Linked DNA regions of Homo sapiens: region 1 is linked to region 2. The links come from fine-mapping of genetic effects on gene expression. A gene starts in region 2. The other region holds a variant in brackets. All regions are shown on one strand. Distances are from middle to middle. Region 1 overlaps NHSL1 (NHS like 1). Region 2 holds the start of HEBP2 (heme binding protein 2).

Region 1 (5,378 bases), 51 kb after region 2:
TAGGTTCTACCCGGAAATCAGACAAGCTCTCACCAGATGGACAGTGTGGGGCCTGAAATAGGGTCTCTTTCCCATATATTCTCATACGAAATATGCTCTCTTTCTCAGAAGAGCCAACTGATCCAAAAGTGGGATTAACTAAGAAACACAGATTAATTCAGTCTTTTTTGTTTTGATTTGTTAGTAAAAGTTAGAAAACTGAATTATAGCCAGAGCTAAACTTAGTATTCATTTAGAATTATTACATGAAAATAGAGAACAGATGAAACTATATAGAACATATCAACTATACAGAACTATATAGTTGATGTCTTTAAGAAGACAGCCACATACATTCCAGTCCTTTTTGGAAGACACTTAGTCTTTGATGCTCTTCCTCCCAGAATTAAACCTCTTGTGTTGACTCTTGGTTTTCAAGATCCTTAATAGTTTCATAGGGTGCCAAAACGTCTGCAGCCTTTTGGCTATATGTTTCTTCTGTCTTTAGTAGATTTAGACACAAGAGACCCTCACTGATTTCTGTTCTCTGTGCATTCTTTTTTTTTTCTCCTGGCGCCAACAACAACAGAAAAAGTGGGGGTAGTGGAAATGAATCCATGTAGAAGCACAGTTCATGGTTCATCCAGCAACTCCATGATGGCCAACAGGTGACTTCCACATCCATATTATTAAGTAACTTTAATTGTTCATTCTTTTTTTCTTTTGAGACGGAGTCTCACTCTGTCGCCCAGGCTAGAGTGCAGTGTAGTGGCGCAATCTTGGCTCACTGCATCTCCGCCTCCCAGGTTCAAGCAATTCTCCTGCCTCAGCCTCCCAAGTAGCTGGGATTACAGGCACGTGCCACCATGCCTGGCTAATTTTTGTATTTTTAGTAGAGATGGGGTTTCACCACATTGGCCAGGCTGGTCTCAAACTCTTGACCTCAGGTAATCCGCCCGCCTCAGCCTCCAAAGTGTTGGGATTACAAGCGTGAGCCACCATGCCCAGCCTAATTGTTCATTCTTTCATATGTATTATATTAGTCCCTTTACCTCAAATCTAATTGCTTTATCAAGAGCTTTAAACTTTCTTTTGTTGTTGTTGTTTTTGAGATGAGGTCTTGCCCTCTTGCCCAGGCTAGAGTGCAGCACAGTGATTACAGCTCATGGCAGCCTCAGATTCCTGGGCTCAAGCAATCCTCCTGCCTCAGTTTCCCAAGTAGCTGGGAGTATGGATGTGCATCAGCGTCCCTGGCTAATTTATTTATTTTTCATTTATTTTTATTGTATTATTATTTTTTTGAGACAGGGTCTCACTCTGTTACCCAGGCTAGAGTGCAGTGGCAGAATCACAACTCACTGCAGACTCAAACTCCTGGGTTCAAGCGATCCTCCCACCTCAGCCTCCCGAGTAACTAGGATGACCGGCACAAGCCACCATGCCCAGCTAATTTTTGAAAACTTTCTGTAGAGACAGGGTCCTGCACATTGCCCAGGCTGGTCTTGAACTCCTAGGCTCAAGCCATCCTCCTGCCTCAGCTGCCAAAGTGCTGGAATTACAGGCTTGAGCCACTGCACCAGGCCCTAAGAGCTCTAAACTTTCTTATCACACAGTGAATTAAAATATTTTGGATCTTAACTATCCCATATTAAGCGATCCTTTCCTCAAATGAAAGAAAATACTTAATTAGAACATATATGTTTAAACTGATACAGTAAGTTGTTTGTAATCATATTTTAGAATAACAAATTATGTATTAAAATCATATAACATAATGAATATTCAAGAACTCACTACTCAACCCATGACCTAAAATATTACTAAAAACCTGCATCTCCCTCCATGCCCCATCCCATCTCCCTACTTCCCCAGAGGTGACCACTAGCCTGAATTTTGTGTTCCTAATTACTCCTTGTTATATGTGTGCGTGTGTGTGTGTGCGTGCGTGCATAAACTTGCTTTGACTTTTACAAAAATAGTATTATTCTCTTTGTGTTTTTCTTACTATTATCTTTCTAAGACACATCCATGTAGTTGTGTGAAACTGTAATTCATTCATTTCACTGGGGTATACATTCCACTCCAGTACTAATTTATTCACATTTTTTATTGATGGACAATTGGGTTGTAAAAGATGCTCTTTGTATTATCTCAACAATGCAAAACTCCCCATAAGAGAATGAGAATGGTTAGGAGGAAAGGACTGTGGCAAAGGCTCTACTCCCCATACAGTCATTACTGGGGGAAAAACATGAGCTCTAGAGTCGTAAGTCTAGGTTTAAATCCTGGTTTTGCTTTTAGGGGTGATAGATGTGTTCACTCTCTTGATTATGGTAATGGTCTCCTGTGTGTATACATATGTCAAAATTTATTAAGTTGTATACTTTAAATATGTATAGATTATTTTATGTAAGTTATACTTCAATAAAAGGCGTTTTAATAAAGAAAGATCTTGTTTCAGTATTTAAAAACTATGTGATCTTAGGCAAGTGATCTAATCTCTCCAAGATACAGTTTTCTCATCCATGATATGGGCATAATCAAAGCTACTTTGCATGGTTGCAATAAATACTGAATATATTCACATACAGCACTGAGCACAGTCCCTGGCGCCTGAGCCTTTCCATGTGCCAAGTGCTTGGCATCATACTGGAAACACAGAGATCAACAAGATAGGGATGCTGTCCATTAATCTAGAAGAGAAGGCAGGTATAAACAGACCCTGATTATAGAGTAGTGGGATGGAAACAGCAAGAGAAACTGGAATGGGTCATTGGAGACATTCTCACTGGTTTGCAGGCAAAAAGGCGTGGGAATGACAGACCCCAATTTTCTCATTTTTGTCTGCAATGGCATGGAATAAGAAGGTGCCATAACTGCAGAGCAGTGAGCATTGACTCATTTGTGTTTCTACAGTTTCCTGAAATTACTCACAGAGACCCAGTAACACATGATTGGACATGGAGTAATCACTTCTCGACTGTAAGCTGCCCTAGGCCAAGAATGGGATCCATATACTGAGACCAAGTAGCACTTAAAAACTTTTTTGGGGGAAAAAAAAATTGAGTGAAGCATACCAGACAAGTCAAAGAGGAATAAGAGATGACAAAATTGGGCATAATGAGGAGGAATTGAGGTAACTGAGTAATCTTGCCCTTTTGCTTAACCAGCATGGTGCGATGAAAAGAAATGAGC[TG/T]CAAGGAGCCCCGCCTTCACATGCTCCCTGCAAGGAGCCCCGCCTTCACATGCTCCCTGCAAGGAGCCCCGCCTTCACATGCTCCCTGCAAGGAGCCCCGCCTTCGCATGCTTCCTGGTGCTTTCGAGCTATGTGATCTTGAGAAAGCCATTTCATATTTCTGAGTCTCCATTTCCAGATTAAAATAATAGTAATAGCTATTAAAATAATCTGTTTCATGGGGCTGTTTGTGGAAAATAAGATCTAATTTGTGAAAAAGTTCTATATCCTAACGTGTACCCCGATGAACAAGCTAGCAATAGCATAAACACTGGTAGTGCCACACCTAGATAACCTGTAAAGCCATGACAATCAGAAATTCGTCAGTAGCTGCTGAAACCTCTCAAATTTATTGCCTTGGGCAGGAAATTCTATGTGGGTGGAACAAAAGACGAGATGATTGGGAGAGTGGCCAAATTTTTATAAAAACAGACATTGTCTATTGAATCATTTTCTTTGAAGCGTGGTTTGAAATACCAATCAGCTTAACAATACTTATCATCATCATCTGAGCATCTAGTCTGTGCCAGGCACTGTGCTAAGGGTTTCACAAACATTAATTTACTTCAACCTCACACCAACTCTCCAAGGTAGGTTAGGGTAACTATGTAATTTTATCGAAACCAGAACACCTCTGAGAGTGAAAGGGGGTGCAATTAATAATTACACAGAATAACAGCTGTAAACCAGGGCTGTTCTAAGCAAACCGGAACATGTGGTTTTTATCTCTTTACAGTTGAGGAACCTGAACCTCACAGACGAAAGCAACTTATCCAAGGCCACTGAGCTCTGACAGGTGGAAAAGCTGCCCCAAACCTACGCTCTCAAGCATCATGTTAAATAAGCCTCCTGTGTTTACAGGTATGGCAGCAAGGTTACTGCCTTTTCTTCAAAGTCTTCCTTTGATTTAAATATTTCTTATCAACAAAGCCTAAAACAGAAGCTGACATGCCAGTTCAAAGAATAACAGGAAACAGGGAAATTTCGATTTCTGTCACGACTATTAAAGCCAACTGTTTACTGCCAAAAATCTAGATCTAATACATCTCTTTAGGGGTGAATTTTACACAAGAGATTGCATAACTCATGATTGATATCCTTTCTGCTAAGACAATGGGGATTCTGTGAAGGTTTCCCAGATTCAGTGAACGTATCATCAAATATAACTTCCGATAATGGCAGGTGGAAAAATTCCCTATCGACTCACAGTAAGTATTTTCGCACTGATAACTGACCTGCCTTCAAATGCAAGAACCTCTTTGGCAGTACTTGGCATATGCTGAAAACTGAAAAGAGAAAAAAGTCAAAAACAGTACACAAAGCAATGGTGTACTCTTTGATTTCAGAGTTGAATGAAAAGGTATTTTCTGGAATTTCTTTCTTTCTTTTTTTTTTTTTGGAGATGGAGTCTCACTTACTCTGCCGCCCAGGCTGGAGTGGAGTGGTGCGATCTCAGCTCACTGCAACCTCCACCTCCCAGATTCAAGCAATTCTCCTGCCTCAGCCTGAGTAGCTGGGACTACAGGTGCATGCCACCACGCCTGGCTAATTTTTATATTTTCAGTAGAGACAGGGTTTCACCATGTTGGCCAGGCTAGTCTGGAACTCCTGACTTCAAGGGATCCGCCTGCCTCAGCCTCCCAAAGTGCTGGGATTACAGGCACACACTACCATGCCTGGCTTATTTTCTGGAATTTCTAAATTGCTTTGCCAACAGTATTTTTTTCAATGCATCATGTTTATGTTTAGATGATATGCATAACATATACAATTGGAAATATTTTCAACAATTTTCTTCTTGCTACACTATATTCCCACTTTGAACATCAAAGATATGTGTGGATCTCGTTAGCAAAACATCTTTCTTCATAACATAACACATAGAGTCCTACTTGGTGTTTCACATTAGGATAATGAAGATAATTATTCTAGAACAATTAGCCAGAGTAAATAACCAGAATCGACGTCCTCTAGGTTCTCTTTTCTAATTTATATGTCCTTAACCTTTGCCATATTAGCAACTCATCTTAAGCACATAATGGATTTTTAATATTTGTTGAATGCAAATTAGATGATTTTTGTAAGAAATACCTCTTTTAAAGTCAATAATTTGTTAACTCATGCATCCCTTCTTCCATATAGTCACTGCTCTTTGTAACACACC
Region 2 (5,378 bases):
CAGAGCATTACATGGTGACGGGGCTCAGTGTGCTAGCACAGGTCTCTCTTCTTCCTCTTATAAAACCACAAGTCCCATTCTCGTGCTAACCCAATAATCCATTAACCCATTAACCCATGAATGGATTAATTTCAGAGCCCTCATCACTCAATCACCTCTTAAGGCCCCATCTTTCAATACTGCCCTATTGGGGATTCAGTTTCAACATGAGTTTCTGAAGAGATGAACATTCAAACCATAGCATACACCCACTAGGATGATTATAATCCAAAAGCCAGATAAAAACACGTGTTGATGGGGATGTGGAGAAATAGAATGCTCACACCTTGTTAGTGAGAATGTGAAGTGGCGAAAAAACAGTCTGGCAGTTTCTCAGAAAGTTAAACATAGAGTTACCATTTGACCCAGAACTTCTACTCCTAGATGTTTACCCAAGAGACATGAAAACATACATGCACACAGAAACATGTACATAAACATGTAGAGCAGCTTTATTTATAATAGCCAAAAGTTGAAAATGGCCCAAATGTCCCTCATCTGATAAGTTGATAAAATGTTTATCCAATGGACTATTAATCAGCTATAAAAAGAAATGGAGTACCTGCCACAACACAGATGAACCTCGAAAACACTTTGCCAAGTTAAAGAAACCAGTCACAAAGGACCACGTACTATTATGAGTCCATTCATATGAAATGTTCCAAATAGACAAAACTATAGAGACAGAGAACAAATTAGTAGTTGTCTAGGCATAGGGAATGGGGAATTGGGAGGTGGTGGCTAAAGGTTATAGAGTTTCTTTAAGGGTGGGAAGTGATGAAAATGTTCTCACCTTGTGATGATGGTTGCCCAGTCCTTGTGATGATGGTTGCCCAGATCTAAAGATCCTAAAAACCATTGACTAGTACACTTTAAATGGGTGAACTATATGGTATATGAATTATATCTTAATAAATCTCTTGGAAAAAATAAAGAATACATCTAACAAAAAAAAATTTAAGGGATATTTATTCCTTTTCCAATTGTTATAATAAAACCAGGTGGAAGAGAATGGTTGTAGCAGTTAGAAAAAAAAAGAATACAAATCTGGGGTTTGGCCATTAAAAGTTATTCATAAAAATGAGAGAAGAAAAGGCAAGAAGAAGTTATTTCACATTACAGACCTCTCCCTGGCCCCAAAGCCTAACATGTGCTTACCGAGTCAAAAAAGAGACACAGTTGATTCACAAGCTGAAGGTTGGAACTTGAATAGAACCCTAGGCAGGGCAGTGCCCCCCTGCCCGGCCCAGGTGCCACTAGGCACAGCACCAGAGTAAAAACTCAACAGCGGGGAGGCCGGACCCTCGAGGTTTGGGAGTTTAAGCACCCAACTTCTGGCTCAGGGATTTGGGGAGTAGGGTAAACAAAACCTACTTGGAAAAGAATTGGGGAAGAAAACCAAAAATTGCCTTCTGCAGGGCTGGGGACAGGGAAGGAGGCAGGGCCAGGGAAAGGCACATTTCATATCACTAATCTAACTTGGGAGGCTGTGGGGGACCGTCTTCAACTGGCCTTACGAGGAAAGCCACATGGCCGATTGGAGAATCCACAGGAGGGAGAGAAGGAAAGGGAATGTAGCTGGTAGGATGCAATAGCCCCTTCCTTTCTGGGCACAGGAGGGCAGCCAGGGCACCAGGTCCAGGCAGTAACCTCACAAGAACAGCAGTTTTTGCAGCTTAGAGATCACCCACCTGGCCCACCCAGCTACTCATTCTGCTCAGCGTGGGCTGGTGTAGGGCCACTCTCCGCCCCGAGGGAGTGGACAGCTCTGTAGCTTGGGGCCCTGCCTCTTCTTCTGAGGCAGTACTGCCTCTGCGCCCTTGGCCTGGGGCTCCTGGCTCTCAGGGGTGGCAACAGCCTTCCCTTCCTGGGCAGCGCCCTTGTCGCTGCAGGCATTGATCTTCCCCCACTCCTGTTCTTCCTCCATAGGTGAGGAGGCAGAAGAGTCACCCCACCCTCCTTCCCATTTCTCTTGAAGGACAAGCTGCTCTTAGAAACCCTTCTTGAAAGATAATTATTTATTTATTTATTTATTTATTTATTTATTTATTTATTTATTTATTTTAGACAGGGTATCACTCTGTTACCCAAGCTAGAGTGCAGTGGCGCAATCTCGGCTCACTGCAGCTTCGACCTCCCCAGGCTCAAGCCGATCCTCCCACCTCAGCCTCCCGAGTAGCTGAGATCACAACCCCAGCACACTCAGCTTTTTTTTTTTTTTTTTTTTTTTTGGAAGGCAGCTATGCTCTCCACTCTACTATCAACGCTATTTTATTGTATTTTTGTAGAGACGGGTTTTCGCCATGTTGCCCAGTCTGGTCTCGAACTCCTGGGCTCAAGCGATCACCCCTGTCTTGGCCTCCCAAAATGAAGGGATTACAGGCGTGAGCCACCGTGCCTGGCCTTGAAAGGCAATTTCGTCTTCTTGGAAGTCTCCTTGCGAGGGAGGGAGCCTCCCCTTTGGCCTCAGCACCCTGGCTAGGGGGTGCTGGCTCCATGGCATTGCCAATGGTCCCGGCTGCCTCTTCTGTTCACAGGGGCCTACTCCCCTTCACCCTTGGGGGATGTCACCATTGCTTTTCACGTGGCCACCCTCCTGTCCGTTGGCTTTCGCGTGGGGAGTGCCTGCTGCCTCTGCGGCGGTCACGTCGCCCCGGAGAGCCTCGGAGCTCTGGCTGCCCACGATGGGAGTCCTCTGGGGGGCGCCGGAGCCGTGCCGGGTCCCCGCCGCAGGGGACAGTAACGCGGAGTCGGCCTGGCCGGCGGAAAGGGGGTGCTGGGGAACAGAGCCGCACCCCACTCGGCTCGGGAAAGCCCTGGTAACCAAAATTCTTGAAAAGCACTAGTGTCTGGCCTCGGCACTAACTCTCCCCGAGTCTCGTTAAGCCTGCGGGGATGACTCAGAGGGTCTGGGGTCCTGTCGGGGAAAAGTTCAGAAACCAGAACAGTTCCAGATTCTCTCCATGTGTCTGTGGTCCCACCACCTCCTCCGCAAGGGACCCTGAAAGCTGTCTGGGACCTAGGACAACTTCTTGGGATGAGTACGGCCATTCGCCCTGGCTGAGCCCCAGGAGTGCGGGCAGGGGCCGCGGGGGTCGGGTCGCCAGCCGCCACCTCCTGCCTTTCTCTGCCTGCGGTGCGCTGGGACACCCTCGAGGCGGCTCAGCGCCCGCGGTTCCCAGCGCGGGCGGGGCCGCGGCAGAGGTTCCCAAACCGGTTGCACAGAAACAGCGCCACCCCCTACTGCCCGCGGGGCCACCTGTGTGTGCCTTTCCTTCAAAAACAAAGGCGGGGCGGGGGCGGAAGTGCCTCAAAAGAAGGCGGGCCGAAGCGAGGTGCGGCTCCCTGTCGCCGCGGAGGGGCGGGGGCAGGACGCGCAACTCCGGCCGGAGCTGTCCGGGGTCGTGAGCCGGCCCCGCCTTGGTGGCGGCGCCCCCTCGCGGTCCAGAGGCAGACGCATCGGGTGGGCTCGGGTCTCCAGCCCGGCCGGGAGGAGGGACCGGGTCTGCGGAGCGGGGACTCGGGGCCTCGGCGGGGCGCGCACACGCAGGCGGGGCGGCCCGGGGTGCGGGGCCTCTGCGCGGCTGACCAGGCTCCCAGAGCGTCAGCGCCGCCCATGGCCGAGCCGCTCCAGCCAGACCCCGGGGCGGCCGAGGACGCGGCGGCCCAAGCTGTGGAGACGCCGGGCTGGAAGGCCCCGGAGGACGCCGGCCCCCAGGTAGGCGCCGACTCGGGAGCGGAGGGGCTGGGCCCGCCTTCCGGCTGATTTGCAGTGAGGCCAGCGGGTCCCATAGAGTTAAGTAAAAAGTACAGTTTTTTAAATGGTCCCAGTCCCTACCCACTATGCTACGCAAACGAGAAACCCCGGTCATTTAGCTCTACCCTCCCCGCTACCCCCAGTGCAGGTCCCATCTCAATTTCTTGTCTTTGCGGGGTGGTGGGGCGGGGAGGAACTGGTTACGTCCCAGAACGCGCGGTGGAACCCTCCGAACCGAGGGGGTGTAATAGATGCTTGTCTGAAAGTGTGAATCGAGTCCCCAGCGTGTGGGGTTGGGGCCGCTGCGGTCCCTAATCGCAAGGAGGGGAACCTCGTGGAGGGGAACCTCCCAGACCTAAGGAGCGGGGACCTCAGGCCGGACCCCGGGGCGGTGCAGCCCCTAGACAGGACGGCTCCAGGTCGACCCGAGATCATGGCACCGGTATTTTTGCATCTCACTCCTACCCTCTTAGAATTGCTTCTCGAAGTTTTCTCTGTTCCACTTTAGCCCGGAAGTTATGAGATCCGACACTATGGACCAGCCAAGTGGGTCAGCACGTCCGTGGAGTCTATGGACTGGGATTCAGCCATCCAGACGGGCTTTACGAAACTGAACAGCTACATTCAAGGCAAAAACGAGAAAGGTAAAAGCAGTTTTCCTTGTAATTATGCATATTGTGAAAGAGTCCCCGGGCTTATTATTGAGTTTTAGCTTATTAAAGAAATATCCTTTATAATGGAAAAATAAGCAAGTCATCAAAGACTTGTCTTGTTTTCAGACAAGACTCCTCAGGACCAGGGTTACACTGGGTATTACTTTTCAACCTCTGTTCTCTGATTTTGCTGGATGAACTGGGGTTTGGTGTAACTCGTGATAAGTCCTTTTCTATGGCTAACACCTCAAGATAATTTGGTGACTGGTAGGATCAGAGACGTCAGGAGGCAAGAAGGTACCAAGATTAGAAGCATCAAGTCATAGCTTTTGGTCTGGCTTTGCTGCTATTTATATTTTAGCAGGTCTCTTAGCCTGTGGGACCTCATTTTCTGAATGGTAAGAAAAAATAATTTACTGACCATGTAATCTCTAATTTCCCCTTTTATCTCTAAAAATTAAGAATTTATTAACCCAGAATATCAGTATTACAGAAAGTGGTTTAATGTGGGCAGTGAGCAATTGAGTAATTTTGGCCTTACTGTTTTAAGATGAAAATTATCTTAAAGGTAAATATGTCAACAATGTGAAGTAAATCAAGGAACCCAGATCAAAAAAGAATAGGTTAAATGTTTAAAGCTGTCAAAAATACACTAAATTTGCTTTCATTTTTATGTCACAGAGATGAAAATAAAGATGACAGCTCCAGTGACAAGCTACGTGGAGCCTGGTTCAGGTCCTTTTAGTGAGTCTACCATTACCATTTCCCTGTATATTCCCTCTGAACAGCAATTTGATCCACCCAGGCCTTTAGAGTCAGATGTCTTCATTGAAGATAGAGCCGAAATGACTGTGTTTGTACGGTAAGTGGTAGATAATTTATAGCCTTGCTGACTGCTAGTTTTACTTGCGTGCACTCACAGTTTAGCT

The links. PIP is the estimated chance that this variant, and not a neighbour inherited with it, causes the effect. A credible set is the group of variants that fine-mapping cannot tell apart.
Region 1: its variant is the best candidate, but not a certain one, in a credible set for the expression of HEBP2 in CD4 T cells (BLUEPRINT, PIP 0.71).

What each region holds. Positions count from the first base shown.
Region 1 is chr6:138,452,285-138,457,662 of GRCh38, forward strand. The region is part of intron 3 of NHSL1 (NHS like 1); the gene reads right to left. Among named protein-coding and RNA genes, the nearest start is that of MIR3145, 20 kb to the left of the region's middle. The variant TG/T (reference allele first, on the strand shown) is at 3,175.
Region 2 is chr6:138,400,841-138,406,218 of GRCh38, forward strand. HEBP2 (heme binding protein 2) reads left to right here and starts at 3,383. Exons shown (of 4, transcript NM_014320.3): 1 at 3,383-3,757; 2 at 4,305-4,440; 3 at 5,131-5,311. The coding sequence starts at 3,656. It also overlaps the pseudogene MARCKSL1P2. RefSeq lists enhancers at 2,077-2,597, 3,119-3,639 and silencers at 2,799-2,868, 2,999-3,848.